Linked DNA regions of Homo sapiens. The protein of the gene in region 1 interacts with the protein of each later gene in a pairwise test. Each region holds a gene or a part of one and is shown in the gene's direction. Other genes may lie near its edges. The genes, in order: SDCBP2, ZRSR2, ARF4 and SREK1IP1.

Evidence for each region.
Region 2: the proteins of SDCBP2 (region 1) and ZRSR2 interact in binary tests that used the Homo sapiens proteins (3 or more experiments, as listed by UniProt).
Region 3: the proteins of SDCBP2 (region 1) and ARF4 interact in binary tests that used the Homo sapiens proteins (3 or more experiments, as listed by UniProt).
Region 4: the proteins of SDCBP2 (region 1) and SREK1IP1 interact in binary tests that used the Homo sapiens proteins (3 or more experiments, as listed by UniProt).

What each region holds. Positions count from the first base shown.
Region 1 is NC_000020.11:1,310,877-1,319,232, reverse strand, and holds part of SDCBP2 (syntenin-2), read left to right. Parts: intron 1-814; coding exon 815-915; intron 916-5,559; exon of another isoform or gene 5,560-5,734; coding exon 5,735-5,893; intron 5,894-6,470; coding exon 6,471-6,646; intron 6,647-6,724; coding exon 6,725-6,896; intron 6,897-8,341; coding exon 8,342-8,356.
Region 2 is NC_000023.11:15,792,900-15,801,255, forward strand, and holds part of ZRSR2 (U2 small nuclear ribonucleoprotein auxiliary factor 35 kDa subunit-related protein 2), read left to right. Parts: exon of another isoform or gene 1-3,150; coding exon of another isoform or gene 3,151-3,351; intron 3,352-6,972; coding exon 6,973-7,054; intron 7,055-8,356. UniProt on the Homo sapiens protein: Pre-mRNA-binding protein required for splicing of both U2- and U12-type introns. Selectively interacts with the 3'-splice site of U2- and U12-type pre-mRNAs and promotes different steps in U2 and U12 intron splicing.
Region 3 is NC_000003.12:57,572,029-57,580,384, reverse strand, and holds part of ARF4 (ADP-ribosylation factor 4), read left to right. Parts: intron 1-2,997; coding exon 2,998-3,069; intron 3,070-4,711; coding exon 4,712-4,837; intron 4,838-8,086; coding exon 8,087-8,173; 3' UTR 8,174-8,356.
Region 4 is NC_000005.10:64,717,055-64,724,454, reverse strand, and holds the end of SREK1IP1 (protein SREK1IP1), read left to right. Parts: coding exon 1-71; 3' UTR 72-6,307; downstream 6,308-7,400. Other genes in the region: SHISAL2B (protein shisa-like-2B), read right to left, coding at 6,433-6,566. UniProt on the Homo sapiens protein: Possible splicing regulator involved in the control of cellular survival.

The sequences.
Region 1 (8,356 bases):
AAACGATTTGAGTCACCTCAAATCAGCATTTCAGCACCATTCTGGTGATCCAATCTCATGTGACCCCGGGAATGAAATACCACACTTGTCAGACTTCCTTGCTGGAACTATGGCTGGCCTGGGGTGGGGGCAGGTGGGGAAGAAGTGGACGGCAGATAGCGGCTCAAAGAGAGAAGGGGCCAGAACCCCACTTGCCTTATTCAGCTTAGGCTTCCATAACAAAATACCATAGGCTGGATGACTTCAACAGCAGAAATGTATATTCCCACAGCTCTGGAGGCTGGAAGCCCAAGATCAAGGTTCTGGCCAATTCAGTTTCTGGTGAGGCCTCCCTTCCTGGCTTGCAGATGGCCACCCTCTGGCTGAGTCCTTACATGGCCTTTCCTCAGTGTACTTGCTTAAAAGAGAGAGAGAAAACGAGAACACGAGAGAGATACAGCATGAGAGCGCATGCATGAGCCCTCTGTTGTCTCTTCTTATAAGGACACAAATCCTTATAAGAAGGGATTAGGACCCTGCCAGTCCTGGTGGGAACCATTCGCTGAGGGATGCAGAGGTTTCTGGGTGTCAAATAAAGTCAGTGGAGTTGAATAGCAAAGTGGTGCATGAGGACTCGGTGTCCTACCCTGCACCTGGGCCCTCTGAGGAGCGCTCATCAGTGAGTGTTCCTGGGGATACCCCACAGTCTTGGAAATAAATACCATTCCCAGGCTCCATTTCTTAATAAAAATGAGCAGCCACAGGGGAGCCAGGCAGGCATAGGGAAGCACATGTCCTCTAATGACACATTTATTCTTCCTTCTTTCCCTATCAGTTTTGTACCCAAACTTGGCAGAACTGGAAAATTATATGGGTCTTTCCCTCTCCAGCCAAGAAGTCCAGGAGAGCCTGCTTCAGATTCCAGAGGGTGACAGTGTATGTATTTGGCTTCTGCCTGCTGCGGGCGCAGAACCTCCCAATCCTCCCTTTTTCCTGGTCTTGCCATTTCAACAGACCTTCTTTCTCTCTGTGCTCGGACCTCCCCTCTCCCCAGCACTCTGCTGGCTCTGTTTCTTGATGGCACCGTTCATTTTGAGGCTTCACGAAAACCACTGTGGGCTTTCATGGTTTCAGATCTTCCCACAAGCCTTGGGGATGGAGAACCAGGGCTTGCCCTTTGACCTTGGGCCTGAGCTGGATGAGAAGGGAGGTCATTAAGCCCAGCGTGAACCTGGGGACATCAAAAGCAGGGCTGCCTGCATGGATAAACAGAGCCGAGAGGGCAGGAGCTCGTCACCCAACTCTGGTCCCCAAATTAAACAACAAGGCTCAATTCCTGCTTTCCATGGCTTCGGGGAGCAAAAGACACCATCACAGAAATATATGCCACTGAAAACATATTTACCTGTAGAACCAGTCCCCGCCTAAGCCCCTTGCCAGTTAGCTCTAGCATCCCTGCGTCCCACCTGTCAGTCTTCCTGCCAGGCTCGTCCTGAGCCGATGAAACTGAAAGTACAAACTGCAAAGTTGTCTAAGGCTGGGGAATTTCATGAAGTTCATGGATATGATGATAGAGAACTGTCACAGACACATACAAAGCCACTGCCAAAACGAGGATCTGACAGGAGGAAATCCACAAGGATGAGGCCATGTGGGACCCTGAGAAGAACTGATGGCACCCTGGGGTGTTTCTCCACAGTGGCCCCCTTCATGGTCGTGCTGTGAAAGGCAGACATGAAGCAAAGAAGGTCCTTCTGTAGGCAGCCCCACTGTCATCACTCTTTGTTCCTATAATTAAGACATAAATGCATTCAACCGTAATTTTGATAAAATATAAGATGATGAATACATTTTTATAATTTAAAATTTTGTATGTCTTTTAACTTTTTATTGTTAAACAGTAGATTCCCAGGAAGATGCAAAGTGAGTACAGAGAAGTTGTTAGTACCCTTCACCCAGTTTCCTCAATGCTTATGTTTTCCATAGCTATAGTACACTATCAAAACCAGGAGTCTTACGCGAGTACAGTGTGTCTCTAGTTCTATGTCATTTCATCAGTGTGTAGATTCATGTAACCAGTACTGCAATCCATACAGAACTAGTTCATCACCACAACCACCTCCCTCCCAGGCTGCTTCTGTATAGTTATGCCTGCCTGCTTGCCACCCTCCCTAACCCCTGGCATCCGGCCCTCTGTTTTCCATCTCTATAATTTTGTCATTTCAGAATGTTACATAAGTGGAATCGTACAGTATGTGACCATTTGAGGTTGGCTTTTTTCACTCAGCACAATACCCTCTAGATCCATCCAGGCTGTTGTGTGTGTCAATAATAGTTCATTCCTTCTTACTGCTGAGTAGTATTCCATGATGTGAATGTACCAGGGTTTGTTTAACCTGTTGAAGAATAGCTAAGTTGTTCCCAGTTTTTGGTGGTTACAAACAAAGTTATTCTTATACAGGTTTTTGTATAGACATACGTTTTCATTTCTCTAGGATAAATGCCCAAAGTGCAATTGCTAGGCTGTATGACAAATGTATGTTTAAGTTTTTTAAAGAAACTGCCACCAGGTGTGGTGGTGCATGCCTGTAATCCCAGTACTTTGGGAAGCTGAGACAGGTGGATCACTTGAGCCCAGAAGTTCGAGACCAGCCTGGGCAGCATGGTGAAATCCTATCTCTACAAAAAATACAAAAATTAGCCAGGTATGGTGGCTTGTGCCTGTAGCCCCAGCTACTCAGGAGGCTGAGGCAGGAGGATTGCTTGAGCCCAGGAGGTGGAAGCTGCAGTGAGCCAAGATCACAGCACTGCACTCCAGCCTGGGTGACAGAGTGAGACCCTGTCTCAAAAAGAAACTGCCAAACTAGTTCCTGGAGTGGCTATACCATTTTATTTTGCCGTGAGCAATACATGAGTGCTCCAGTTTCTTCATGTCTTCACCAGAATTTGGTATTATTACTATTTTATATTTTAGCCACTATGATAGGTATAATGATGGCTCATCATGGTCTTAATTTGCATTTCCCTGGCACCTGATGATGTGGACCATCTTTCCATGTGCTTATTACCATCTGTATATTCTTTCCGGTAAAATGTTTCTTCATATATTTTACTCATTTTCTAAATGGCTTGTTTTCTTCTTCTTGTTTTTTGAGACAGGGTCTTGCTCTATTGTCCAGGCTGCAGTGCAGTGGTGCGATCACGGGTCACTGCAGCCTCCACCTCCCGGGTCAGGTGATCCACCCACCTCAGCCTCCCGAGTAGCTGGGACCACAGGTGCACACCACCATGCCCAGCTAATTTCTTTTATTATTGTTATTTTTATTTTTTGCAGAGACAAGGTCTTGCTATGTTGGCCAGGCTGGGGCTTGTCTGTAGTGTTTTGGGAGTTCTTTGTGTATTCTAAAGTCCTTTGTCAGATGTGTGGTTTATGTTTTCTCTCAGTCTGTAGCTTAACAGTTCTGAATTTTGATGAGGTCCAGTTTATTGATTTTTTTTTCTTTTGTGGCTCATACTTTGTAAAGAAATATTTACCTAGCCCTAAGTCCGAAAGATTTTCTCCTTCGTATTCTTCTAAAATGGTTATAGTTTTATGTTTTGCGTTTACGTTTATGATTGAATTTGGGTTAATTTTTTTGTAAGGAGTTAGGTTTCAGTCAAAGTTCATATTTTTGCCATGGTTGCACCATTTGCTTTTTTTGTTGTTTTGTTTGTTTGTTTGTTTTGAGATGGGGTCTCACTCTGTCACCCAGGCTGGAGTGCAGTGACATGATCTTGGCTCACTGCAACCTCCGCCTCCTGGGCTCAAGCGATCCTCCCATCTCAGCCTCCTGCGTATCTGGGACCACAGGCACGTTCCAGCACACCTGGCTAATTTTTGTATTTTTGTAGAGATGAGGTTTCACCCTGTTGCCCAGGCTGGTCTTGAACTCCTGACCTCAGCTGATCTCCCTGTGTTGTCCTCCCAAAGTGCTGAGATTACAGGCATGAGCCACTGCGCCCAGCCAACACCATTTGTTGAAAGCACTCTTGCAAAAAGCAGTTGACTTTACTCATTTGAGGCTATTTCTGGATTTTCTACTTTGTTCCACTGATACTTGTCTATCCCTTCACCAGTACCACACTGTCTTGATTATTGTAGCTATATATAATAAGTCTTGAAATTTGGTGGTGATTCCTCTCGCTATTCTTTTTGTCAGAATTGTTTTAGCTATTCTAAATTCCTTTGTCTTTTCATATAAAGTTTAGACTAACCTTCCCTGGATCTGCAAAACATCTTGTAGAGATTTTGATAGAAATGGTGTTATATCTGTATATCAATTTGGTGGCAATTGACAGCTTTACTAATTCTTTCAACACGTGAATACAGAGAATCTTCCATTTATTTAGGTCTTCTTTGATATCTTTTATCAGTATTTTGTTGTTTTCAGCATACGGTTCCTGTATGTGTTTTGTTAGATTTACACGTATTTCTTTTTGTTGTTCTTGTTTTTAGGTTTTATTTTGCTTCGTTTTTGTTTTTAACAGAGATGGGGGTCTTGCTTTGTTGCCCAGGCTGGTCTTGAACTCCTGGCCTCAAGTGGTCCTCCGGCCTTGGTCTCCCAAAATGCTGGGATTACAGGAGTGAGCCACTGAGCTCGGCCTCTTTTTTTTTTTTTTTTTTTGAGTGATTGTAAGTGGTATTGTATTGTATTCCTTTTCTTTTCTTTTCCTTTCTTTTCTTTTCCTTTCCTTTCCTTTCCTTTTTTTTTTTTTTTTTTTTTTTGAGGTGGAGTCTTGCTCTGTCACCTAGGCTGGACTGAGCAGTGGCTCAGTCTTGGCTCACTGCAACCTCCACCTCCTGGGTTCATGTAATTCTCCTGCCTCAGCCACCTGAGTAGCAGGGACTACAGGTGCTTGCCACCAGCCCAGCCAATTTTTGTATTTTTAGTAGAGAGGAGGTTTCAACAGTTGCCCAGGCTAGTCTTGAACTCCTGGGCTCAAGTGATCCATCTTCCTCGGCCTCCCAAAGTGCTGGGACTACAGGCATGAGCCACCACGCCCAGCCTGGTGTTGTATTTTAAATTTCAGTTTACATGTGTTCGTTGTTAGTATACAGAAGTACAATTGAATCTTGTGTGTTAATTTTGTATCCCAGGACCTTGCTAAACTCTTTTATTTGGTCTAGGAGTTTATTTGTAGATTCTTTGGGATTTTCTAGTAGACCATCGTGCCATCTATAAATAGGAACCGTTTTATTTCTTCTCTTCTGATCTGTGTGACTCCCCCTCTTTTCTTGCCTACTGTGCTGGCTAGGTCTTCCAGTACCATCTTTAATAGTGTTGGGAGAGTGAAGTTCCTTGCCTTTTTCTGCATCATGAATTTGTATATTTTTACATTTTTCTCAAGACAAAAATCCAGTCCTTTTATCCCCTGTTGCTCACTATTTACTGTGACTTTTTCTATTTTAAGTGGGTTTTAAAGGAGGCTTTTCCTGATGCCAGTTTCCCTTGGGAAATGAAGGGCCTCTTCCTGTATCCTCGCCCCTTCCCTCCCCGTTTTCCTGGCTTTTTAAGGGCATGGACTTTGACGCCCCCTAGTGGCCGCGTGGAGCCACGTCTCCTCTCGCCCCTAGGGGAGAAGCGTGGACTGGGGACGTGGGGGGACCCGGGGACGGCTCCATCCTCCTTTCCCCATCCCTACCCCCACCCCAGTGTCTCCTGAGGCACAGGGTCCCCACGGGCCGGGCTGACCCCCTGCCCCCTGGTGTCTGCAGACAGCGGTCTCGGGCCCCGGGCCCGGCCAGATGGTGGCACCGGTAACCGGGTACAGCCTGGGCGTGCGGCGAGCTGAGATCAAGCCCGGGGTGCGCGAGATCCACCTGTGCAAGGACGAGCGCGGCAAGACCGGGCTGAGGCTGCGGAAGGTCGACCAGGTAGGGCGCGGGGGCTGGGTGGGAAGAGGAGCTCGAGCTGCACGCGCTCTCCCGCCAGGCCTCAGAGCTCAGAGGGCCCGTCCACAGTAAGGAAGGTGCAGAGCGGGCCTCCTAACCCCAGCGGCCAGGCTCTTGCCCCCAGTCCCTCCTCCCCGAGACCCGGGCGGGGCTGGTGCTGGGTTGCGCAGGGCCCTCCACTGGCCTCTCCGTGGGCTTCCGTCGCTCGGAGGAGCCTCCCTTCCCCACCTGCCCTTCGCTGCCCAGGGCATCTAGCTTCCAGGCGACGGTGTAGACAGCCGACGCCAGGGAAGCCCATGCCTTTGTGAATGGTACAGTGGAGTGTTTCGGAGTGCAGCCCCAGGCCAGGGTTGAAATCCTGACTCACCTGCTTCCTAACTATGAGGCCTAGAGTGTTTCCTCCCCGGTAAATGGGGTAACCTTGGTGCCTGCCATGCAGAGCTGTGTCCCTGGCACCCTGTAGGTTCCTGGAGTATCAGGAGGAAAACAACAGGTTGGAAGAGGGATCTGTGCCTAGGGTGGGCCAGGGACACTGACTCTGGGGCCCTGCCTCCCCCAGGGGCTCTTTGTGCAGTTGGTCCAGGCCAACACCCCTGCATCCCTTGTGGGGCTGCGCTTTGGGGACCAGCTCCTGCAGATTGACGGGCGTGACTGTGCTGGGTGGAGCTCGCACAAAGCCCATCAGGTGGTGAAGAAGGCATCAGGCGATAAGATTGTCGTGGTGGTTCGGGACAGGTGAGTAGCCAGGCCCGGGCAGCCTCTCCGTCTCACCCCAGCCATGTCCCCAGGACAGCTCACTGTCCCTCCTGCCAGGCCGTTCCAGCGGACTGTCACCATGCACAAGGACAGCATGGGCCACGTCGGCTTCGTGATCAAGAAGGGGAAGATTGTCTCTCTGGTCAAAGGGAGTTCTGCGGCCCGCAACGGGCTCCTCACCAACCACTACGTGTGTGAGGTGGACGGGCAGAATGTTATCGGGCTGAAGGTAGGCTGGTGGCCGCACCAGGGAGGGACTGCCGGGTGGTGGGAGGGCTCAGGTCTTTGGGCAGCTTGCTTACCCCACCTGAGCCTCAGCATCCTCTTCCTAAGGTTGCTGTGAGGGTTCAGTAAGACGGTGTTCGTAGGGCTGGGTGCGGTGACTCACGTCTGTAATCCCAGTGCTTTGAGAGGCCAAAGCAGGAGGATCACTAAGTCCAGGAGCACGAGACCAGCCTGGGCAATGTGAAACCCTCTTTCCACAAAAAAAACTAAAAAATTAGCCAAGCGTGGTGGTGCACACCTGTAGTCCTAGCTACTCAGGAGGCTGAGGTGGGAGGACTAATTGAGCCTGGGAGGTCAAGGATGCAGTGAGCTATGATCATGCCACTGCACTCCAGCCTGGGCAACAGAGAGAGACCCTGTCTCCAAAAAAAAAAAAAAAAGACAGTGTACCTAGAGCTCTGAGCACAGTGCCAGGCACATAGCAGGTGCTTAATACATAATAGCTATTGCTGGCTGCATGGACACCTCCTTGCTCTGTATGGCACTTTTTTTGGTATAGTGGATCATGTTCAGTAGTTTAGGAATGTTTTAGAAAATCGTTATTCAGAAATCCATGGGGTCGTGAGGTTCTTCAGAACTGGGTTTGTCCCAGCCAGCCACACTTCTTGAGATCGTTTGTCTTTTCAAAGTTTATTTCCACCTGTGGCCATCACTAGTCCTGTCTAGCACATCTTCTCACATTTATTTTCGAACAACCAAGAAAACACATAACCAGATAACATACATGTGTAATGTAAAGGTCAATAGGCTCTGAGTGAGGGCCAGAGGCTCTTCTATGGCCATAACGTTAGTGTTTGGACCACCTGGCACGCTTTGCGTAGAGACTTTTAATTTCTTGTTCTTCCCATGATCTAAGTGGTGTCTGCAGGCCCATCTCTTTTTATCAAACAAGCAAATGTAAGAGGATGTAAGAGGAGGAGGATCCTTATGGCCCTGGAGGCAGCAGGAGCCAGAGGGTGGATGGGTACGCCTAGTACCTCCCACAGGATGGGGAGGCATTTATGCTTTGAGGCCAGAACCCAAATGTGACTGTGGGCTTGGTGAGTCTCTGGGAGCCCTTGGAAGGGGGAGGAGAATCGCATTGATGAGGCCCTGTTACGCGTCAGGCTCACACCGCTGGCCTTCAAGCTGAGGGTGGGAAGAGGCATGCTCATTTGACCAAGGAGATCCTCAGGTGGGAGACCCATGTTCTCACTCAAGCAAGACCTTACCTGGGAGTCTGCTGGGACCCTCATCTGACAGGCTCGGGGTCCGAGGCAGCCCTGCCCTGCAGTCAGCCATCAGTGGTGTCCTCTAGCAGTGGCCATGCTGATCCCTCCACAGAGGGGCCTGTAGAGTTGCCCCTGGTCCCCAATCCTTAGGGTGATCGCTTACTTGCCTCCTCCCTAGGACAAAAAGATCATG
Region 2 (8,356 bases), on another chromosome or scaffold:
GGACCTTGAGAAACATAGCCATAGAGGTTTTATTTACCATTGGTGTTCCTGAGTAATTATTTTAGTGTCAGTACTGGGATATTTAGAATGGAAGGAGCAGTGTGTTTAACTGCAACCTGTGTTAGCATTTCTGTCTTATTAGTTGAAAACTCATCCACTAGAGGCAGAACAAAGCATCAGGGATAAAAGGAAAAGTAGAATAGGTTGGAGTTATTGAGGCCCTTATTGTACTTCGTCTCTCCCCCCTTGAAATTTTCAGCTACTTTACTTTGTTCATTTAATCTGTTTTATTCTAAATATTATATATTCTAAATTTGTTTTAACTTCTTTCTCTTTTTCTTTTCCTGCACTAAATCCTATAACAGCTGGTATTTGTATTGTTTTGATTTTTTTTTTCCTTTTTACTTAGCAAAATGTGTTCAGAATGAGCCTCTGTGGAGAGTCAGGCGAGTCATGTCCCATGGTAGTTTAGCCCATTTTAATGGACTAAATCCAGGTCACTGGTCTGTCAAGATTATGTAACTAATGGCATATCCAAGACTAAGCACCTGTCTCTGCACTTCTGCTCCTACTTTTGCCCACTCCAACTCACAATTCTTTGCCTAGTGGTACTTCATGAATACTGTAGACTATGGAACACTCCTGGTTTTTTTTTTTGAGACAGAGTCTCACTCTCTCGCCCAGGCTGGAGTGCAATGGCACGATCTAGGCTCACTGTAACCTCTGCCTCCCAGGTTCAAGTGATTCTTCTGCCTCAGCCTCCTGAGTAGCTGGGATTACAGGTACCCACTATCATGCCCGGCTAATTCTTGTACTTTTGTAGAGATGGGGTTTCACCATGTTGGCCAGGCTGGTCTCAAACTCCTGATCTCAGGTGATCTGCCCACCTTGGCCTCCCAAAGTGCTGGGATTACAGGCGTGAGCCACTGCGCCCGGCCAGGAACACTGCTGTTTATTGTAGCACACGTTAGATGGGTAAACATTACCCAGAAGGCTAGAATGTTGAGTGTAACTATGAGAGTGCCTTGGCAAATGATTGGAGTGCCTTGGCAAATGATTTCTGGAATAGTGAGCTCTTAATTACAGATAGCTTCTTTGGCATCCATTCTACTTCAGATAACTGGAAACAAGCTACCTCGTCAGAAATTAAGATATTAAAAGCAAGTTGCAAAACTATAGCATGATTCTGTGTGTACAGTTACATGTACAGGTTGAGTATCCCTTATCTGAAATGCTTGCGTTGTATTTACCAGTTCAGCATCCCAAATCCAAAGATCCAAAATTCGAAATGCTCCAATGAGCATTTCCTTTGAGCATTGTTGTCACTCAAAATATTTCTCATTTTTGGATTTGGGGTGCTCAACCTGTATAATACCATTGGATATACATTTGATCCTTGAACAATGTGGGAGTTAGGGGACTCTGACCGCCCCCCGCCCCTCCCCACAGTGGAAAATTTGCATATAACTTTTCACTCCCCCAAAACTTACTATTAAGTGCCTGCTGTTGACTCTAAGCCTTACCAATAACATAAACAGTTGATTAACACATACTTTGTATGTTATATGTATTATATACCATATTCTTATAATAAAGTAAGCTAGAGAAAAGAATGTTACTAAGAAAATCCCGAGGAGGAGAAAATATATTTGCCCTTCATTAAATGGAAGTGGTTCATCATAAAGGTCTTCATTCTCCTTGTCTTAATGTTGAGTAGGCCGAGGAGGAAGAGGATGATTTGGTCTTGCTCTCTTGGGTGGCAGAGGTGGAAGAGGTGGAGGAGGTAGAAGGGAAGGCAAGAGGGTAGACGGCACTTGGTGTAACTTTGCAGAAATACATTATAATTTCTGTCTGACATTTTTGCTTTTTCATTTCTCTAAAAATGTTTCTATACAGTACCAATTCTTCCACCACTTGCTTTAGTTTAAATGCATTAGTTTTCAGTATAGAAGGGTCCATAAAAGAAGTCAAAAGCAGTCTTGAATAATTGGCCCTTCTGCCAGATTGTCTAGTGTCAATTTGTTTTCTGGCACTGCTTCACCTCAGTTTTCTTCCTCATCACCTTGCACTGGTTTGGAAGGACTCATCCCCATCAAATTGGCTTTTGTTAACTACTCTGGTGTGTCTGTTAGCTCTTGAATTTCTTCAAGATATCTTGAGACCCTTCACCCCGACCCCCCTGCACTTTTCCCCCCCCCCCATATTTACAATCTCTTTCACGATTTCCTTGATTGGCTCTGTCTTAAGTCCAATGATGCCATGCACAATATCTGGACACATTTTTTTCTCCAGCAGGACTTTGTTTTGGGCTTGATGATTTTCATGGCTTTTTCTATAACAACAATAGCATCTTCAATGGTATAATCTTTACACACTTTCTTGATACTCTCTGTATTAGGGTTCTCTCCCATAGCATTGACAATCCTTTCCGTAGAGTACCACGTGTAATGAGCTTTAGAGGTTCTTACGACCCCCTGGTCTAGAGGCTGAATTAGAAACATTGTGTTTGGGGGCAAGTAGACCACTTTGACACCTTCAGTGTTGAACTCATGGGGTTCTGGGTGGCCAGGGGCATTGTCCAATATTAAAATAATTTTAAAATCCAGTTCCTTATTGGCAAGGTACTTCCTGACTTCAGGGACAAAGCATCAGTGGAACCAATTCAGAAAAAAGGATTTCCATTGTCCAGGCCTTCTAGTTGTACAACCAAAAGACAGGCAGCTGGTGCTGATCTTTTCCCTTCAAGGATTGGGGGTGGGGGTTAGCAGCTTTATAGATAAGGGCAGTTCTGATCATAAACCCCACTACGTTTTCATGAAACAGTAGAGTTAGCCTGTCTCTTTTTGTTTTCAATCCTGCTGCTTGCTTCTCTTCCTACTAAATGTCCTTTGTGGTGTTTTTCTAGAATAGGATACTTTCATCTGCATTAAAAACCTGTTCAGGCCAGGCGCAGTGGCTCACGCCTGGAGTCCTAGCACTTTGGGAGGCCAAGGCGGGTGGATCACGAGGTCGGGACTTCGAGGGCAGCCTGGCCAACATGGTGAAACCCTGTCTCTGCTAAAAATACAAAAAGTAGCTGGGCGTCCTATTCACGCAGATATCCTTTCTCCTCAGTGATTTTCTTTTTTGTTTTTTGTTTTTTTTTTTGAGATGGAGTCTTGCTCTGTCGCCCAGGCTGGAGTGCAGTGGCATGAACTCGGCTCACTGCAACCTCCGCCTCCCGGGTTGAAGCAATTCTCCTGCCTCAGCCTCCAGAGTAGTTGGGATTACAGACACGCACCACCGCGCCCGGCCATCATGACTTTTCTCTGCTTCTTGAGAGCACTTCCAGCATCGCTAGTCGCACTTTGTGTGAGTCTCATGATGTTATTCAAGGTTTACCATTTTGTAGTAAACACAGTGAAAAATACGCCAGAGATCACTTCTTACTGCCATACACAATTTACTGAAGAGATGAACTGCTCATGCAGAGATGAGTAGTGTCACAAGGTGTTTTAAGTGAATACTCATAGTATTTGAGCTCACTGCAATAGCAGCAGGAGGTGGCTATGAAATTATTGCAGTAGTGCAGTGTGTACTACAGTTAATTTTTTTCTTCCTTCTGTACCTCATTGGATGCGTTTTTTTCCTTGTTTTGTACTACAGTTAATTTCATGCAGTTATGATTTAATACTGCATATTTATGTTTGTTTACATTTTTCTCAACTGTGAATGTGCCATATATGGTCTATAAATATAAGTTTTGATAAATTTTAACTTTAAAAAAAGTTGTCAATGATTATGTTGTAGCACAACTTTTATAGTAATATTCAAGGAAAAATGTTTGAGACCGAACTTCTCTGTCTTAGAATGGAATGAAGTCAGAGATCATTTTGTTTCAAATCGTTTTTTTTTTTTTTTTTTTTTTTTTTTGAGACAGAGTCTCGCTCTGTCGCCCAGGCTAGGGTGCAGTGGTGCAATTTCGGCTCACTGCAACCTCTGCTTCCCAGTTTCAAGCAATTCTCCTGCCTCAGCTTCCTGAGTAGCTGGGATTACAGGCGTGCACCACCACACCTGGCTAATTTTTTTATTTTTAGTAGAGATGGGGTTTCGCCATGTTGGCCAGGCTGGTCTCGATCTCCTGACCTCAAGTAATCCGTCCACCTCGGCCTCCGAAAGTGCTAGGATTACAGGCATGAGCCACCGCTCCCTGGCCTGTTTCAAATGCTTTAAGCAAGGAAACAATAAAACACTTAACTTATATTGTAACAGTATCTGTATATGTGCTGCTCAAGCCAGCACAATATTGCTTAACAGTATCTGCATTAACTTTTTTTTTTTTTTTTTTTGAGACGGTGTTTTGCTCTTGTTTCCCAGGCTGGAGTGCAGTGGCGCGATCTTGACTCACTGCAACCTCCACCTCCCGGGTTCAAGCAATTCTCCTCCCTCAGCCTCCCGAGTAGCTGGGATTACGGGGGGCTGCCACCACGCCCGGCTAATTTTTGTATTTTTAGTAGAGATGGGGTTCACCATGTTGGCCAGGCTGGTCTCGAACTCCTGACCTCAGGTGATCCGCCCGCCTTGGCCTCCCAAAGTGCTGGGATTCCAGGCATGAGCCACCACGCCCAGCTCTGCATTAACGTTTTATAATAGATTTATATTTATGGTAGCAAATGATAAAATAGACTAGTATGTACATATATTTTATGCATTCATGACATACCTTTTTCTTAATTTTTTTCAGTGTTTCTAGGCCATGCCACTTACCTATTTTTTTTTTCAAATTGTTGCAAATATCCCCTAAATGTTCCAGTGTGTTTACTGAAAAAAAATCTGTATTTAAATAGACCAAGGTGGTTCAAACCTGTGTTGTTCAAGGGTCAGCTGTATTGTATGTATATGTATTGCATATGTCCGATTGTACACGTGGGGAAAATGCTGTACCCAGAACTGTTAGCAATCACTTCTGTGGAGTATATGAGCTTGGTTTCGAGGTGATGGGGAGTTGAGTGAGTCAGTCAACAGGTGTTTGTGAGTGTCAGCTGTGTCTATGCCCTGTCTAATCTATGGCATACCTCTGCAAGTAGTCAGGCCATATCCTCTGTGCCAGGTTCTCTGGCGCTTTAAGTACATTAGATCATTTAATTATCTGAACAATTAGATACTATTTTATATGATTGAGAACTTATTCTACATTTGTTGCCCATTTTAATTCCAGCTGCTGAAATAATAAAGTTTACTTACTTAAGAAAAGTAAATTATTGTAATTATCTAAGACTGGATGAGCCTTCAGTTAGAACTGTACTCAACACATGTGACAAACAGACTCTTTTTTCTTTAAGCCTGACATCTGTAACATTTCTTTAAGATTATTTCAGTCTTCCATTTCTCTTCCACTTTCACTGATTTTTTTCCCAAATTTTGAATGGGAGAGGATGTAAATGTCTATTCTATTAAAAGTTGTTTTTTCATGTTTTTATTTGGGAAATGTTCTAATCTACAGAAAGTTGAAAAAAAGAGCACAATAAATATCCATGAACCCTTCAGCAAGATTTGCCAGTTGTTAAAGTTTGGCCTTTCTTTCTTTTTCTCTATTTAAAGAGATACATACATAGAACATTTTTTCTGAACCTTTTGGATGGCAGTTGCAGATAGCAGCACCTCACCCCTAAATTCTTCAGCTTGCAACTCCTAAGAATAAGGACATTCTCCCGCAGAACCACAATACCAAACTTGCACCTGAGTACATGAGCAAGTAATTCAATGGTATCATATACAGGCCATATTTAAACTTCCCCAAACCAGGATTGATTGTTTTGAAAAACTCAAGCCAGTTATCTTGTGGAATGCCCTGTATTCTGGATTGTTCTGTCTTCTCATGATTAACTTCAGGTAACAACACTCTTTAGAACAAAGGATTACAGAGCAGATGTTGTAAACTTCTTATTGCATACATCATGAGACCTTTCACATCAGGTTGTTGCACTCCCGGTGATGCTAACTGTGGTTAAGGTGTTACCCACCCAGGGCCGGACATGCTGGCTCATGCCTGTAATCCCAGCACTTTGGGAGGCCGAGGCAGGCGGATCACGAGGTCAGGAGATTGAGACCATCCTGGCCAATGTGGTGAAACCCCGTCTCCACTAAAAATACAAAAATTAGCTGGGCATGGTGGCGCGCGCCTGTAGTCCCAGCTACTTGGGAAGCTGAGGCAGGAGAATCGCTTGAACCCAGGAGGCGGAGGTTGCAGTGAGCCAAGATCGCGCCATTGCACTCCAGCCTGGCGACAGAGCAAGACTCCCGTCTCAAAAAAAAAAAAAAAAAGTGTCCAGATCGCTCCATTGGAAAGCATTGCATTTTTTCTTTTCTAATTAGTCCTCATGTCTGGGGTGATATGTTGAGATAGTGTGAATATACTCTTCCTAGCAAGCTTTCATTCGATGTTTTTAATGTCTTTGTCTAAATTTTTACAGTGGGGGTTGCAAAAGTGATGATTTTTCTACTTAAGTTTTTCTCCATTTTTTAGTTACCATTCTTCTGTGAAGATGGATGTTCCCTTCCACACCCCCACCACCTTTTTTTTTTTTTTTTTTGAGATGGAGTTTCACTCTTGTCGCCCAGGCTGTAGTGCAATGGCACGATCTTGGCTCACTGAAACCTCCACCTCCTGGGTTCAAGTGATTCTCCTGCCTCAGCTTCCCGAGTAGCTGGGATTACAGGTGCCTGCCACCATGCCAAGCTAATTTCCTTTTTAAGTATAATTGTGGAACCATTGATTAATTTTTAAATGTAATGTGCTATCTGCCACCCCTATTGTCCTTTTTGATGCTTGTGTTGTACCAAAGAAGGTTGATCAGAGACCTTTTTGTTAGAAAGTTTAAGAAAAAGATTTTTACCATAATTTTATACATTAAAGATTACATGTATTTTTTTCCTGAATTTTTGACCAAGGATTTGCAGCACTCAGTTTAATAAAACATTTAAATTCCCTAGGACTCTCACAGAAGGAGGAAGAGGAGGACACTTTTATTGAAGAACAACAACTAGAAGAAGAGAAGCTATTGGAAAGAGAGAGGTCAGTGCTAATTGAAACACTTAAAGTGAATGAAGTTATTTTATTGGAATATTATCAACCTTTACTAACCAGTACCAGTCTTCTGTATAAAATCTTGTACCAAATAGGTCTTATAAAATATCCTGTATAAAGTATTTAAATCTGTAGTTGATGGGCTAAAACTAGATGTTATTTTTTTTAAAAATGGAAGTACTTTTCTTCTGTTTTTGCTAATTTATAATTTTTTTTCTTTCTTTTTTTTTTTTTTTTTTTTAGACGGAGTCTCGCTCTGTTGCCAGGCTGGAGTGCAGTGGCATGATCTCAGCTCACTGCAATCTCCGCCTCCCGGGTTCAAGCGATTCTCCTGCCTCAGCCTTCCGAGTAGCTGGGACAACAGGTGTGCACCACCACACCCAGCTAATTTTTGTATTTTTAGTAGAGACAGGGTTTCACCATGTCGGCCAGGGTGGTCTTGATCTCTTGTGATCAAGTGATCCGCCTGCCTCAGCCTCCCAAAGTGCTGGGATTATAGGCATGAGCCACTGCGCCTGACCTGTAATTGTTTTTGAAAACAGAAAAAAAACAAAAAAAATTAACAAATGTAAAAAGGGAAAAGACTTTAATAATTGCAACACACCCAAAGATAGCCACTGTTAAGAAAGAGAAAAAGAAAGTGTAAATGTACTTTACGTGTGTCTTTCTATAATGGCATGATATTTATACATATTTTTCTATAAATTGCTTTCTTGCTAAATATATAGTGCATTTATTTCAGTACTGATGCAGGGATCTAATTCAGCCATTTCAGTGGCAATACAGTACCCACTGTACAGATGTAGCATAATTTATTTGCTATTCATAGTTTATTCATTTATAATTTATAGTTCTCTACTGATGGACTTTCAGGTTATATTGGTTTTTCACTCATATGTAAAAAGTTGCAGTAAGCATCCATGCTTATATATCCTTGGTAATTGTCCAGTTATTTCCTTAAGAACATGACTAAAAATGAGATTGTTGGAATCAAATCATAAGTCCATGTAAAATGTAGATGGCCAGGTAGAAAGGGCTTCCTGGTTTGCAGTTTGCAGCCCTTCTGGCAGTGAATGTAGGGGCCCATCTCCCCATACCTTCACTCATACTAGGCATTATCAGTTTATAAAACTATAATGAAACTGTTTCAAATGCACATTTCTGAATTAGGTAGAGTATCTTTTTATATGTTTTATTACCTATTTGTAGATTGCTCAAGTCTCACACCTTTCTCTTTTGGGATACATGTTTTTTTAAAATTTGTTTTTGTTTTGTTTTGTTTGAGACGGA
Region 3 (8,356 bases), on another chromosome or scaffold:
GTTTGGTTCTAAAAAGGAGTAGCTTTTGAAATATGGAAAGGAGGAGACATATTTGCTAAATAAATGCCCATGATAAGCCAAGAACAATGATCTTTTATATCTCTGTGATTGCATTTAATCTTTAACAAGCTTATGAAGTTAGTATTTTTATTTTATTTAGACGAGGCATAGTCAAGGATTAGATAATATATATAACAAGTAGTATAAGATTTGAATTTGAGTCTGTCTTCCCACCACACTATATTGGCTCCCAAAGCATCAAACATTATTTTTTGTTTTTGAGATGGGGTCTCACTCTGTTACCCAGGCTAGAGTGCAGTGGCATGATCATGGCTCACTGTAGCTTCAGTCAACCTCCTGGGCTCATGTGATCCTCCCTTCTCAGCTTCCTAAGTAGCTAGGACTATAGACATGTGCCACCATGCCCTACTAAAATTTTAATTTTTTTCGTAGAGACAGGGTCTTACTCTGCCCAGGGTGATCTTGAACTCCTGACTTCATGTGATCCTCCCACCCCAGCCTCCCAAAGTGGTGGGATTAGAGGTGCCATGCCAGCCAAAAGTTTTCTCAAAGGATAGGATATTTAAAGTGATGGTTTTCCAGGTGGTATAGATGCAGTGTAAAATAAAATTTAAAAATTAAGTTATGGTTTCCAACAGAGATAAAGGAAATGGACTTACAATTTGCTAAAACAAAGGAAATTGTCATTTAATGGATGTAAAATAAGTGTTAGATGCTCCTGGAGAGCCCAGTACTGTGGTAATCCTGAGAGGTAAACAGAAAATGATGTAGGATGGGGCTGGGCGCGGTGGCTCACACCTGTAATCCCAGCACTTTGGGAGGCCAAAGCAGGCAGATCACCTGAGGTCAGGAGTTCAAGACTAACCTGGCCAACATAGTAAAATCTCATCTCTACTAAAAATACAAAAATTAGCCAGGTGTAATGGTGGGCGCCTGTAATCTCAGCTACTCAGGAGGCTGAGGCAGGAGAATTATTTGAAACTGGGAGGAGGGGTTTGCAGTGAGCTGAGATGGCACCACTGCACTCCAGCCTGGGTGAAAAAAAAGATATAGTATAGTCCTTTGCCCTTAGTGGATGTAATCTAGTTCCTTTTTTTTTTTTTTTTTTTTGAGATGTAGTTTGCTCTTGTCGCCCAGGCTGGAGTGCAATGGCGCCATCTCGGCTCACTGCAGCCTCCGCCTGCCAAGTAGCTGGGATTACAGGTGTGCCACCATGCCCGGCTAATTTTTGTATTTTTAGTAGAGATGGGGTTTCACCAGGCTGATCTCGAACTCCTGATCTCAGGTGATCCACCTGCCTCGGCCTCCCAGAATGCTGGGATTACAGGCGAAAGCCACCTCAACCAGCCTCGTTACTTACATAAATCAGTAGTGCAAGACAATCTGTTATAAGTGACATGATCAAAATTGATACTTTAGGAGTCAAGGTTTATCTTTTTTTCTTTTTTATTATTTTTATTTTTGCCCCCCCCCTTTTCTAGCTGAAAATTCTATACTTTCCCATTTGAAAGTTCTTAGAAAAACAGTTCAACTAGTTGCTTCCTAATTCCTTCCATTTATTTTGTAGTATAGAATTCTAATAATGGGCCAGGTGCCATGGCTCATGCCTGTAATCCCAACACTTTGGGAGGCCAAGATGGGTGGATCACTTGAGTCCAGGAGTTCGAGACCACATGGGCAACGTGGTGAAACCCCATCTCTACAAAAAATAGAAAAATTAGCTAGGTGTGGTGGCACGCACCTGTAGTCCCAGCTACTTGGGAGGCTGAGGCGGGAGGATCATTTGAGCCCAGGGGGTCAAGGCTGCAGTGAGCCAAGATTGTGCTACTGTGCTCCTAGGCAACAGAGTTGAGACCCTGTCTGAGAAAAGAAGCTAATATTTGTATCTCTAAGAATTGATAACTACCTTCCTTTTTTTAAAGAATGTCTTACTCGATCAGGTAAATCTTGAATTTTTCTTTCTTTTTTTTTTTAAGAGATAGGGTTTTGACATATTGTCCTGGCTGGTCTCAAACTGCTGGGCTCCAGTGATCCTCCTGCCTTGGCTTCCCATAGTGCTGGGATTACAGGAGTGAGCCACTGCGCCCAGTCTTGGATTTTTCTTGCTATCATTTTCTTAAGATGTCTTCCTGATCTAGAGTTGGCAGGCAGCATTCTGAAGCAAGTTAATTTTTTCCTTCCATGATGAAGCAGATAAAAACTGTAGTGTACACACTCGCGCTATCCCACCCCCCTTTTATTACTCTGTACATGCCTTTGAGTCAGTAAGCTAATTCAGTTAGTAAATTCATGGGGTTTTTTTGTTTGTTTTTTGAGATAGGGTCTCGCTCTGCCACCCAGGCTGCAGTGCAGTGGTGCGATTTCAGCTCCCTGCAACCTCCGTCTCGGGCTCGTGATTCCTCCCACCTCATCTCCCAAGTAGCTGGGACTAAAGGCATGCACCACCACACCTGGCTAATTTTTGTATTTTTTTGTAGAGATGACCTTTCGCCATGTTGCCCAGGCTGGTCTCAAACTCCTGAGTTCAAGCAATTTCAGGCCTGATCGTTTGCCTCAGCCTCCCAAAGTGCTGGGATTACAGGATGAGCCACCATGCCTGGCCAAATTCACGATTCTTTAGGATCCTTGATTTGTTATTTTTCTTTTTGTTCCTACTTTGTGGCTATTTTGGTACCTGCACTTAAATGTGAGAGTGCAGAGGGAAGGGGAAAAATAGATACAATTTATTCTTAGGGTAGTTGAGAAAAGTAATTAATTGGTGAAGAATAAAAATTTTTTAGATTTGAAATAGCACTAATAAATTAAACTTACAAATAGTTCTCAAATCAGCTTTTAGCATTACAGCCTTAAGTTCTTACTTTTAAAGAGACATTTTCTTCCTAATGTCTAACCATTGGTACCATTTTGCTGCCTACACTGTTTCATATAGAGAGTGTCGTTTAACTGTTAAAATTTACTGAAACAATTTTTCCCCAGGGTCTTATTTTTGTGGTAGATAGCAACGATCGTGAAAGAATTCAGGAAGTAGCAGATGAGCTGCAGAAAATGGTAAGAAATATACTTTAAATTCATCATTTTCAAGGTGTGCTTTTCTGGATTAAACTGGTGGTGGTTTAGTACATTTTGACTATGATTAGATTACACAAATGGATTGGGGGGGCTAGAAATAAACTTAAGAAACTATATTATCCACAGGTTCTTAATAATGTACTTCAAAATCTCTTATAGAGCGTTTTAAAAAACACATGGAAGAGTAGCTACTTCAGTAAGTTGGGAGGAAGGCAGAGCAGTGTTGTTTTTTTTTTTTTTAGAATGCCTCATGGGTAATCTTGATGCCTATCTCTGGCTGAGGATATCTGATTTAGCTCAGTCCCTTACTTTACAGATATCAAATCTATAGTGCTGTAGTGGTTTTGACCCTAGGAATCTTGGTTCAGATGTTTTGTTCCCAAGGTCATCGGTTCCATTTTCTCTATGCTGTGCCAATAATTACTTCAGAAATGTTTTTTAATAGTAACCATTTAAGGATAAGGAATTCCTTCTGAAAGTAGAGACAAATGTTTGGTTCACAGTGGCATTTTGCAGCCTTCCCATAGATTGGATTAATGTTTTCATGTGTTCATGTTGTTAAATGTACTAAATGGAGGAAGACTGCTGAGAATCCTTGTCATGATTTTAAACTTGTAGCCATAAAATATTTACTGAAATGAAATCTTAATTCTTGTTCATTCCTCCTAAGATTAGAGGGCAGTTTGTAAAACCATTGTGCCAGTATATGTGTAACTAAGTCATTGTTGGATTTTTGCCTGAGTCAAATGTCACCAGCTTTCCCTCTTCAAAAAAAAAAAAAAAAAAAAAAGCTTGGTTGAGACATACTTCACACACTATAAATGTCATCCTTTTTAAATGTGCATATCAATGGCTTTTAGCATACATAGTTGTACAACCATCATCACAATCTAATACTAGAAAATTTTCATCACCCTCAAAGAAATCTTGGACCATTAGCAGTCATTCCCATTTCCTTCCTCTCGTACACCACACTCCCAGCCTCTGACAGCCACTAATTTGTCTTTATACAGTCACCTATTCTGGACATTCATATAAATGAAAACATACAATGTGTTCTTTTGTGACTGATTTTTTCACTTAGCATAATTTTTCAGGGTTCGTCTATATTGCATCATGCATCAGTACAACTTCTGTTCTTGGTACTTTTTTTTTGTATATTTCATGATACTGCCAACACCCAGATAATTGTGTTATTGTCCCACTGTTGTTGGAAAGGATAGAAGTCCGAAAAGAATCATCATCTATCTAAGTACTTCTGCTACTAAGTACCATAAGAACCTGCCATAAACATTTTATTCCCACATGTATTTCTTGCCCTTATCAGTCCTGACAATGGGTAATCATGAAGGCTGAATGATGAGTGATTTGCTTTAATTTAATGGGGTGTAGGATGATTGACTTGGAAAACAGTTCTGTCTTATTTGAAGGCATATGATTGTTTGCTCTGGATTTAAAAACTGAAGGATATGAGACTTCAGTTGTAAGAGTGAACTTTGTGTCGAGAAATTAGGTTAATGTTTAATAATGTATTTAATGCTGAGTAAAGTATATATAGGAAGACATTTTCAAAAATTGGATTCCGGTTGGTAGTTGTTAATGCCTTACCTTTTATTTCCAGCTTCTGGTAGATGAATTGAGAGATGCAGTGCTGCTACTTTTTGCAAACAAACAGGATTTGCCAAATGCTATGGCCATCAGTGAAATGACAGATAAACTAGGGCTTCAGTCTCTTCGTAACAGAACAGTAAGTATTTGGAGGTTGATATTAACCTCTTGACTATTAAGACTTACTAGGATAGTTGTGTAAGCTAATATTCAGTTTAAACATTTATTATCTCCTTTGGACAAATAATGAGCACATCATTTATTTAAAAATATGGTAATAAACTTTAAATACCTTATTTGATTTTTGTAAAGAAACGGAAAACTACTGTAGAATAGGTCTAAAGATTATTGATAGTTTCTTTTTTCTTTTTTTTTTTTTTTGAAGGGAGAGGTGGAAGGAATGGAAAGAAGATTATTGATAGTCTTAATTTTAATTTTGTATCTTTTAAGTAACCCTACAGCAAATATTTTGAAATCTGGCTTTCTTATTAAGGGTCCAGTAATGTTTGTTTGCTTGTTTTAAAAGTGGAGATGGGGGGCTGGGTGCGGTGGCTCATGCCTGTAATCCCAACACTTTGGGAGGCCTAGGTGAGCAGATCATCTGAGGTCGGGAGTTTGAGACCAGCCGGACCAACCAGGGAGAAACCCTGTCTCTACTAAAAATACAAAATTAGCCAGGTGTGGTTGCGCATGCCTGTAATCCCAGCTACTCAGGAAGGCTGAGGCAGGAGAATCACTTGAACCCAGGAGGTGGAGGTTGCGGTGAGTCGCGATCGCGCCACTGCACTCCAGCCTGGGCAACAAGAGCGAAACTCGGTCTCAAAAAAAAAGTGGAGATGGGGGGTCTCGCTTTGTTGCTAGGCTGGTCTTGAACTCCTGGACTCAAGCAATCCTCTCACTATCTCAGCCTACCAAAGCGCTGGGATTCCAGCCATGGTGCCCAGCCTTGTTTGCTTGTTAACATAACAGTTTATGGAGGAGACCAGGTACCACGGCTCACACCCGTAATCCCAATACTTTGGGAACCCAAGGCAGGAGGATTGCTTGAGGCCAGGAGTTCCAAACCAGCCCGGGCAACAAAGTGAAACCCTATCTCTACAAAAATAAAAATTAGCTGGGTGTGGTGGCATGTGCCTTTAGTCCCAGCTACTTGGGAGGCTGAGGTGGGAGGACTGTTTGAACCCAGAAGTTGGAGGCTGCAGAGAGCTGTGATTGTGCCCATTGCACCCCAGCCTGGGTGACAGAGCAAGACTGTTTCTTTAAAAAAAAAAAAAAAAATTTGTACTTCTCTAAAATTGCTTATCATTGATCAGTGATTCAGTGATGGAGATAAATTATCAGAAACTTAGTGTCATAGGCTTTTTACAGTAGTTTTGCATTAACCTGTAAATAAGGGAAATACTGTGGCTGTGGTAAAAAATGAAACAAACAACAAAGAACCTATTGCAGGCCGGGTGCAGTGGCTCACGCCTGTAATCCCAGCACTTTAGGAGGCTGAGGTGGGTGGATCATGAGGTCAGGAATTCAAGACCAACATGGCCAAGATGATGAAACCCCATCTCTACTAAAAACTACAAAAAAATTAGGTGCAGTGGCAGGCATCTGCAAGCCCAGCTACTCTGGAGGCTGAGGCAGGAGAATCACTTGAACCCAGGCAGCAGAGGTTGCAGTGAGCCGAGATCACGCCACTGCACTCCAGCCTGGGTGACAGAGCGAGACTCCGTCTCAAAACAAACAAACAAACAAAAAAAAACAACCTATTGCCTGTTTGAGATATCTCAGGCTGATTTGAAGAACATAAACTGGGCCGGGTGTGGTGGCTCACACCTGTAATCCCAGCACTTTGGGAGGCGAAGGTGGGCGGATCACTTGAGACCAGGAGTTCGAGACCAGCCTGGGCAACATGGTAAAACTCTGTCTCTACTAAAATTACAAAAATTAGCTGGTCGTGGTGGTGCATGTGTGTAACCCCAGCTACTTGGGAGGCTGAAGGCACGAGAATCTCTTGAGCCTGTGAGGCGGAGGTTGTAGTGAGCCGAGATCACGCCACTGCACTCCAGTCTGGGCAAGAGTGAGTACTCTGCCTCAAAACAATCAGTCGATCAATCAATAAATAAGCAAGCAACACTAACTGTAAATGATACAAGTTTTCCATGCTGTGAAGGTATGAATTTGAGCCTTTCCCCAGCCTCCTAGGTTACTGAGATTTGGTATTCAAATAATTGGCAACATGGTATACCTGCAGTGGCCTTGCAACATTAAACTGGTCAAAAAAATTAATAAAAGTAAACTATGCCTTAAATGTAAATTGTTTTCTAGGTTTTTTTTGATACTTTCACACAGTTACTAGAGATAAGATTCGTTGCCATTTAAAAGCAAGAACGTTTTGGAATGCATGAGACTAAAGATGGTGAAATTGTCTGAAAAGCTTGCCCTTAAAATATCAACAAACCCTACTCTTTCTTTCTTTCTTTTTTTTTTTTTTGAGATGGAGTCTTGCTCTGTCACCCAGGCTGGAGTGCTGTGGCACGATCTCGGCTCACTGCAAGCTCTGCCTTCTGGGTTCATGCCATTCTCCTGCCTCAGCCTCCTGAGTAGCTGGGACTACAGGCGCCCACCACCACGCCCGGCTAATTTTTTGTATTTTTAGTAGAGACAGGGTTTCACTGCGTTAGCCAGGAAGGTCTCGATCTCCTGACCTCATGATCCATCCGCCTCAGCCTCCCAAAGTGCTGGGATTACAGGTGTGAGCCACCACGCCCGGCCTAACAAACCCTACTCTTTCAAAAATTTGCCTCTTCTACTTTGAGTTTAGTTTTATGGGAAACGAGAGTTATAAAAACCAGATGGGTAGTTTATTAGTTACTAATTTCCCCATGATTTCTTTTTTCAGATTAAGTGGTAGAAAGTTTACTAAAAGGGAACCAAAAACCAGCACTGAAAAGAAAGCTGAATGAGGGGGGAAAATCTTGTCTAAATATAATGAATAGGTAGAAGTAGCTTGATTGATTGAGACGGAGTCTCACTCTGTCGCCCAGGCTGGAGTGCAGTGGCACAGCCTCGGCTCACTGCAACCTCCAGAATAGGTAGAAGTGGCTTTATTTTTAAAAAATAATTTAATCTAAAAAAGTAGAGACAAAGTCTCACCATGTTACCCAGGCTGGTCTCGAACTACTAAGCTCAAGTGATCCTCCCATCTCCGCCTCCCAAAGTGCTGGGATTTATAGGTGTGAGCCACCACGCCCAGCCAGAAGTAGCTTTAAATATGGGAGAGTTTTGTGAGATGCAAGAGGTGTGAAAAGACTCTTAAGTTTGATTAAGAAAGTTTAAACACTGGTGTTATATATTAACTTTGTTAATCAAGTATTTTCTTGTCTTCTCTTTACAGTGGTATGTTCAAGCCACTTGTGCAACACAAGGAACTGGTCTGTATGAAGGACTTGACTGGCTGTCAAATGAGCTTTCAAAACGTTAAATGAAATTGGATATCTAACCAAGGACATGTTTGATAAAATTGGTCTAGGCTTGTTACAACAAAATTAGTTTGTATCTTGGTTATTAAACAGTATCTGGGACTGGTTTGGGCAGAATATTAAACTTATTTTGTTGCCAATTATTGTTTACCGAGTATAATGTTGCTATTTAGCAATGTGCTTGG
Region 4 (7,400 bases), on another chromosome or scaffold:
AGGAAAAAAAGAAGAGAAAAAAGGAAAAGCATTCTTCTACACCTAATAGTTCTGAATTCTCCAGAAAGTAACTGAGACTTTGGCTTAAGCCGTTAAATTTAAAAATTTGTTTTTAAAACGTGTTTGCCCTTCCTTGGAATTTGCTATATATTATGCTTTGCAATAAATCACAGCCTTTTCCATATAGACATTTTTCGTATTTGGGACCATTATCCCTCTGGCAATATATTTTTAATGTGCTGTAACTGTAAAGTATTAAATCAGTCTTGTTACTTGATAGCCATGCCCCAAGTATAGCTATTTGTGTATACTAAACACATCATTTTTGGTATTTGTGTCTCTGTGTGTTTGGCTAGTGTTACTACTTCATAAGTTCATTGTAAAATGGCTTTACTGCCATCAACATGGGTCATCTACCTAGCAGTTAATGAGTATTGCTGGATCAGGTGTCCACCTTCCAATGATGAAGCAAGGTAAGGGGTAATGTTTTGCTCTTGACACAGAGAAATTTAATAGCTTTATGTACTAAAATATAATATCTTTTAAAGATAGTGAAATTCTTCAGTTTTTTAAATCTCTAGGGATTTTTTTTCAATGTTGTAGAAGATGCAGCTGCTTAATGGTCTTGACTAGGACTTTTTAAATGAATGGTGTCTGCAGGTAGATGATCATGAAAATATCTCTAACAAAGTTTTACTCTTCTATGAAATGCAGAATTTCTAGTACCTGCCTCCTTTGTTTTTGTAATAATTAAAATACTTCTTGTATAAAGAGATTAGTTCAGCCTGTTAGTAAGTCTGCAGAGATGATGCTGAGTTGGTTGTGATTTTTAGAATAGACTCCTGGGTTGTTTTACAAATGTGCCATATTGGCATGTCTTACAGTGATACCTCAAACACAGAAATTTTTATTTAGGAAGATAGCTAAATCTTTATTAGAACTGATTTTTATTGTATTCAGTATAAATTTTATGAAGCTTGTTTCTATGAGTACTGTGGAAAATTTTATAAATGTGAGCATATATATTTATTTTGTCTGACATAATTTGTAGTTTTAAAGCAAGTTTCACACTGAACTTAACGTTTTCATAAATGACCAGTTTGGGATGTTTCTCTCTTTTACTTTAGTGGCAAACTCAAGAGTAAAAAGTGTCAAAAAAAGAATTGAGAATTTTATTCTGTACTTTTTAAAATTTAAGAGCCAGGGAGTTGCATCATGAAAGCCTTTGTATAATAATGGAAATTTTATATGGGTAAGCATTTTCAAACACATATTAGTAGATACGTTTTTTAAATTTCTATTTTCACATTGATCAGTGTTACTTTGCTTAATACTTAGGTAGCCCTTATGTCCACTAAAGTAAATGCTTATGTTGTAGAAGCATCGAACATCAACCAATGTCATGGCACAGCACCAAAGATTGCAAATACCTCACTATGGTGCGCTTAGAAATTTTCAAATTGATAACCTATAGATACGGCTGCAGGTGAATTCATGATAGTGAAATCAGCTAAGTATACTTAACCTCACAGGCTAGAAAGGTTTACTGATTCTTGTTTCACCTGGCACCCAATGTGGATACCCTCAGTAAGACTCAGGGAGCCTTATAACTCCTCTTAACATATGCTTACCCATGCTTAAATTCTAGGGAAGCTGTATCCACAGCCCTCTGCATTGCAGCCATGAGAGCTCTCACGCTTTCAACCCTTCCATAACCTAATTTAGTCATTTGGGCCTCTCAAAAGGAAATGCTTTTGTTTAAATAGGTCAGTCAGTTACTGGGAGAAAAAATACAGAGCCAGTAGGTTTTTAGGGATTTGTTTTGCCTTTGCTGCTAGTTTTTTGAAAATATTCTTCGATTATCAAGATTTTAAAAATCGGTTTTTAATATAAAGCTTTTTTAAAAACGAGGCTGGCACAAGTGCAGTGGTGTTTCTTTACTCCCACTGCTTGACTTGACTAGCCTTGAAAAAATAACAGTAAAATAAAATATTAAAAAATAATTAGAAAATGCTACAAAGGCAATGACCTTATTCCATTGAGTAAGATAGTTAAAAATGATAGTAATTGTAGTGAAATAGTTAATTACTTGTAAGTTTTATTACTGTTAATTGTAGAGATTATAAATTGGCTCATTAGGTTTCTGAATGGTGACACAATAATGACTGAGAAGAGCAAAAGTCAGTCCTCGTTAACTAATGTAGTATGCAAATTAAAATATTTTAATGATCAGTAATTTTCCCCCCAGAAATGATGTTGGCATTTCTAAGTAAATTTCCCATAATTTTAGCATAGTTTATGAAATTGAATAAAAATTTATTTTCACTGAAGTAATTTTCTTCTAATATGATATTATTATTGAGATTGGATGCAAATCTCATGAATATGTTTTAGAAGAAAATTAATGAAATTCCCTCCCAGGCAGTATGTACCAGAAGGAAAACTGAATTTAGCAGTAAAACAGTCCTGGTCATTCTAACTACCTGTATGATCTTGAACAAAGTCACTTAGTTTCCCTGGGCCTTGGTGTCTTTCGTCTATAAAATATTGTACCAGATTATCTCTGAAATCACTTCAAGGTTTAATATATATAATTATCAATATTTTAAAATTCAAGCAATATTCACTTTAGAAATTATTATAACATTCTATAATAGTAAAGGTTGAATTTATTAATATAATAAACACGTTCAACTTCTTCAAGCAGATAATTGATATTTGGTTCATATTCTTACAACCTAATGCATGTCATTTTCACCAAATGCAGGCAGAATTTATATTTAGGTTTGCATCTGGAACTAGATTATCTGGCACTTTATGGCCATTATTTTTGGGTTGATGGACCTTCTCACCACACAATTTCCCCCTTTTTTTTTTTTGCATATCATATGTTGGTTGATATTTCTCAGAGGTATCCCTATTTCTTCATACTTAATATACATCTCCATTTACATCTTTGACTCTCTGAGGTCAAAACAACAATAAATGAGAAGTAAAACAACTATATGTGTTTGTATTTACAACTGTATCTAAAATTATATAACCCTAGTTTACCTTCAGAGTAAACTAGGCTGAAGAGTTGTTAATAATGTTGATAAAAATGCCATTGAATCCTTTCTTCAACAAATATTTATTGAGTACCTAACGTGGCAAACGCTGTGCTAAGTACTGGGGATACAGAGATAAGTAAGACACATTTGCCTCCCTGAAGGACTTCACAGTGTAGTTGGTAGGAGAAACACCAGAGCATACACCGTTATATAATTAGTGCAGTAATTGACATGAACATGAGTTTATAGAAACTCGGGGTTACCTAAAGTAGTCTGGATAAATTAGAAGAGGCTACCTAGAGAAAGTAGTGACTGAATTGCAATTTGATTAAGGATAAGAATGAGGGTTATGGCAGTTCCTGACAGAGTGGGTACTGTGAACAAACACCAGAGGTAGAACAAGCTGTGTTATGTGTTTGTCAAGAATTACAAGCAATCTGGTGTTGCTGGTGTATCATAGGCGAGGCAGGAAGTGGTAAGAATTGAGACTACCATTTTAAGTTCTTAGGAACAGGAGGAAGGAGTCGTGTGTTCCGTGTTTGGGAGCTTGAACTGTAATGTGTAAGCAATGAGACACCATTAAAGAGTTTCAAGGGGGGCCGGGCACAGTGGCTCACGCCTGTAATCCCAGCACTTTGGGAGGCTGAGGCGGGCGGATCACCTGAGGTCAGGAGTTCAAGACCAGCCTGGCCAACTTGGCGAAACCCTGTCTCTACTAAAAATAGAAAAATTAGCCGGACGTGGTGACAGGCACCTGTATTCCCAGCTACTCTGGAGTCTGGGGCAGGAGAATCGCTCAAACCCAGGAGGTGGAAGTTGCAGTAAGCTGAGATCACACCACTGTACTCCAGCCTGGGCGACAGAGCGAGACTCTATCTCAAAAAAAAAAAAAGATTTTAAGGAAGGAAATGACTTTTATTAGGGTTTGGTTTTATCAATTTCATAATCCGATTAATCCCACCATTTTTAAAAGATGAAATTGCTTTCATTAGAAGGCTACATAAAATATAATTTGATTATTTTAGGCTCTATTATTAGACTCACATTTCTTTCTACAGTCTCATTATTATTTCCAAAAATTACACAGTAACCTAAATCATCTAAAAACACATAAAGCTACTGTATTCTTTATTAGATCCATCCCCAGAGTTATATGTACATGTACATACTTTGAGATGTGTTTTGTTCTTAATTGTATTTTAGGTTATTTTTGACTGACTTAAATTCTATCACTATTTTAATATTTGTTAGGTCCGAATAAACCATTTAGAATATTTTTCAGTGTACAAAATGTGCTGTAATTTAATAAGGCCCCTTGCTTTTAAAATTTGGCTTAACCTGTGAAGCACAACTGCTTCAGAGTTACAGAGAAACATACCAGTTGGTCCACTGGATGAGCCCTGTGGTTCTACCTCAGGTAACCTAGTGATAAGCTAGCTCAGCAGGGAGTGCTTCAAGGACTCCAGCTGATCCTAGTGCTGAGACCAAAACTTCCTGGACATTGGGTGCCCAAGAACAGTAGGTTTCTTATACCAGTGTGACAATAATCCCAGTTGCGAAGGCCAGTCTTCTGATCTCAGTATCTCCTCCCAACTCCTCTAAAAATAGGTAGAGTGGCAGAGAATTGGGGTGCCTCTTCTATAGCACAACCCATGATGCATCCAGTCATGCCTGACCCCACTATGCCTTTCCCACAAATTGGGAGGAGTTGGGGCAGTGAGCATTTTGCTAGCTCTGTCTGTTTCTTGCTTCTTGTGCCATTTATAGTCCTTGGCCATGAGCAACAAAAGTAGAATGGTGCCAGTGCCTTAACTAAATTTTTCTCAACCTAGATTTTCACCTGAGACAATATGGTAATATTATTAAATTACTGTAAAGATAGCAAATTTTCTGGGATACTTTAAAATCAAAGTTGTATCAAAGATCAAGAAGCACCCATAAAAGCTTTATAAACTTTCACAAAAAATAAGTGAAAATTCTTTGTTTTTATGGCCGTGTAAAATGTCATTTTTATAATGGAAATGTCTTAATTTTCAAACTTAACATATACTTTAAGCAATTTTAGTATTTAAACCTTTGCAAAATTGTATTTTTGAATGTGAAGTTCAACTTTGGCAGTAGGTTGTTGCAATAGTGATCTGGCACTATGGTGCCAGTATAGCCACATAGGGTTATTTAAATTAATTAAATAAATGAAAAATTTTATTTTTTCAGTTGCATTAGCCACATCTTAAGTGTTCAGTAGCCACATGTGACTGGTGGCTACCATATTAGTGCAGATATAGAAAGAACATTTCCATCATCACAGAAACTTCTCTTAATTCTGGTCTAGAAGATAACCTTAGTACTTGGTAGAAATTTTGACAGGCTAATGACGAAAAGTTTGTAACCCTGAGCTTTGCATGCCCAAGAAAAATAAGGTATTCTTTTTTATATATCAGACCAGAGAAGCTGTATTCAGCACATTTTGAAATGCTAGTTTTTGGCTATGGCCATACCACCCTAAATGTGCCAGATCTTGTCTGAAATGCTAGTTTCTGACTACAAAAACTACAGGACATAGTAGATATGCTCAGTAGAGCTGCTTAAAATAATTCCCTTTTTTTTTCTGTTGAATTCTGTTACAAAACCAGGTCTGTGTTATAATAGAAAACACACTTATGAATAAAAATCTTTAAAAATTATAATTTGCAGAAATTAGTTTTATTTCTAGATTTCTAGGTGGTATTAATGTGATAGCATTAGGTGGGACCAGAGAACTCATTTGTTTTGTAGCTTTCATTATACAGATTATTTAGGAAATATATCAGCAAAGGATTTTTTGTTATGCTTATCTCTTGAAACAAAATATTTATTGTACAGATTATACATTGTGATTTTTTTGTTACTGAGTATATTGTTTGTGCCCAGAAAAATCTAAAAAGATGTGGGTTGACTTCTAAGAGATTTAAGAACAAGTCACCTCTAGTTTTTAAGACAGTTCCCTTGATATTTACCTATCCAGTACCATCTCATAAGAATAACTGCCTGTAAGTATCAGAAAGTTGAGAAATGCTGGTAATGTGACATAAACTTCTCACTGTTCTTCACTGAGATAGGACTGCTTATCTTGTTATTGATAAATTATTTAATTTCTCCTGAATAATTAGCATAATCTCATGTGATACAGAAACATCTTAATTAGCAAATAAATTTATACAAAGGAAAACCAATAAAACCTTAATGTGCGTTTAATAAAGTAACTGAATGATCAAAAATGCAGCTGTGTCTTGCTTTGTGAGTGACGAATTTTTGAAAAGCAATATTACAAACCGTTTCAAGTGCACGCTTTATTTTTATTGTCCCATCTCTCCAGTAAGCATTTAAAACACAGAATTTTTAGTTAATAAGCAATGTGGATTTGTGTTGCATCCATTGTTTTTTCTTGAATTATATCATCAGCTTCATAGTATGTTTCATTTGTTGCATTTGATGCTGCATTTGAATTGAGGGCTTTGGTTTTTCCATTTGACTTGCCTGCAGATACACAAAACAAAATAATTATTTGAAATTATGACATCGTTTCACTTATAAAAATTTGCACTTAAAAATAATTTTTGTAGCAATATTGAAAATATGATGTCCTGAAAATGCTATGTGTATGAGTGAGAATTGAGTTATTTTGAAGTGGTTTTTGAGTATTTCCTTATGAAAGTCAAATAAGGGAAATAATTCAGTAATAAAAAAATTTATTTCCATGCTTACCTTTTTTCCTCCATGCTTCCATGAGGAAAATAACTACACATCTGATAAGAAGGTAACAATTTCTGAGTGACTTAACAAAAGTGTGACTGTCCCTCTCCTATGCATAAACTACACTAAAGCCAATCATAGTAACTTGCCCAACCTTAAGGCTTTGCCATTATAACTGATTTAGATGTGGTTTATTAAAAGGACACAGTAGTGCCACAATCCCATTCACTCACTCCATATAAATATGAGTCCAAAATGAGCAAAGGTGAAGGAATATGGATCTTTGCTGATCAGAAGTTAGTCTAAACAAACATAGCAAAGAAATGGATTATTCAATGAACAGTGTTAGGAAAAGTTGAATGATTGTAGAAATAATTAATGTATCATTTCACCAATAGAAAATAACATAAATACGTAAAGAACAGTGGAAGAAATCACAGACATTACTAATGACCTCAGTGTTGCTAAATGCACAGTCCAGTTCATTCTCATCTTCTTTGATTTCTTAGCAGCAGTTGATCCAGTTATTTCCTTGGCTTCCAGGACACCATTCTTTTTTACTCCCTGCTACTTCACCATTACTAATTACCTCCATGTTGCTAAATCCACAGTCCAGTG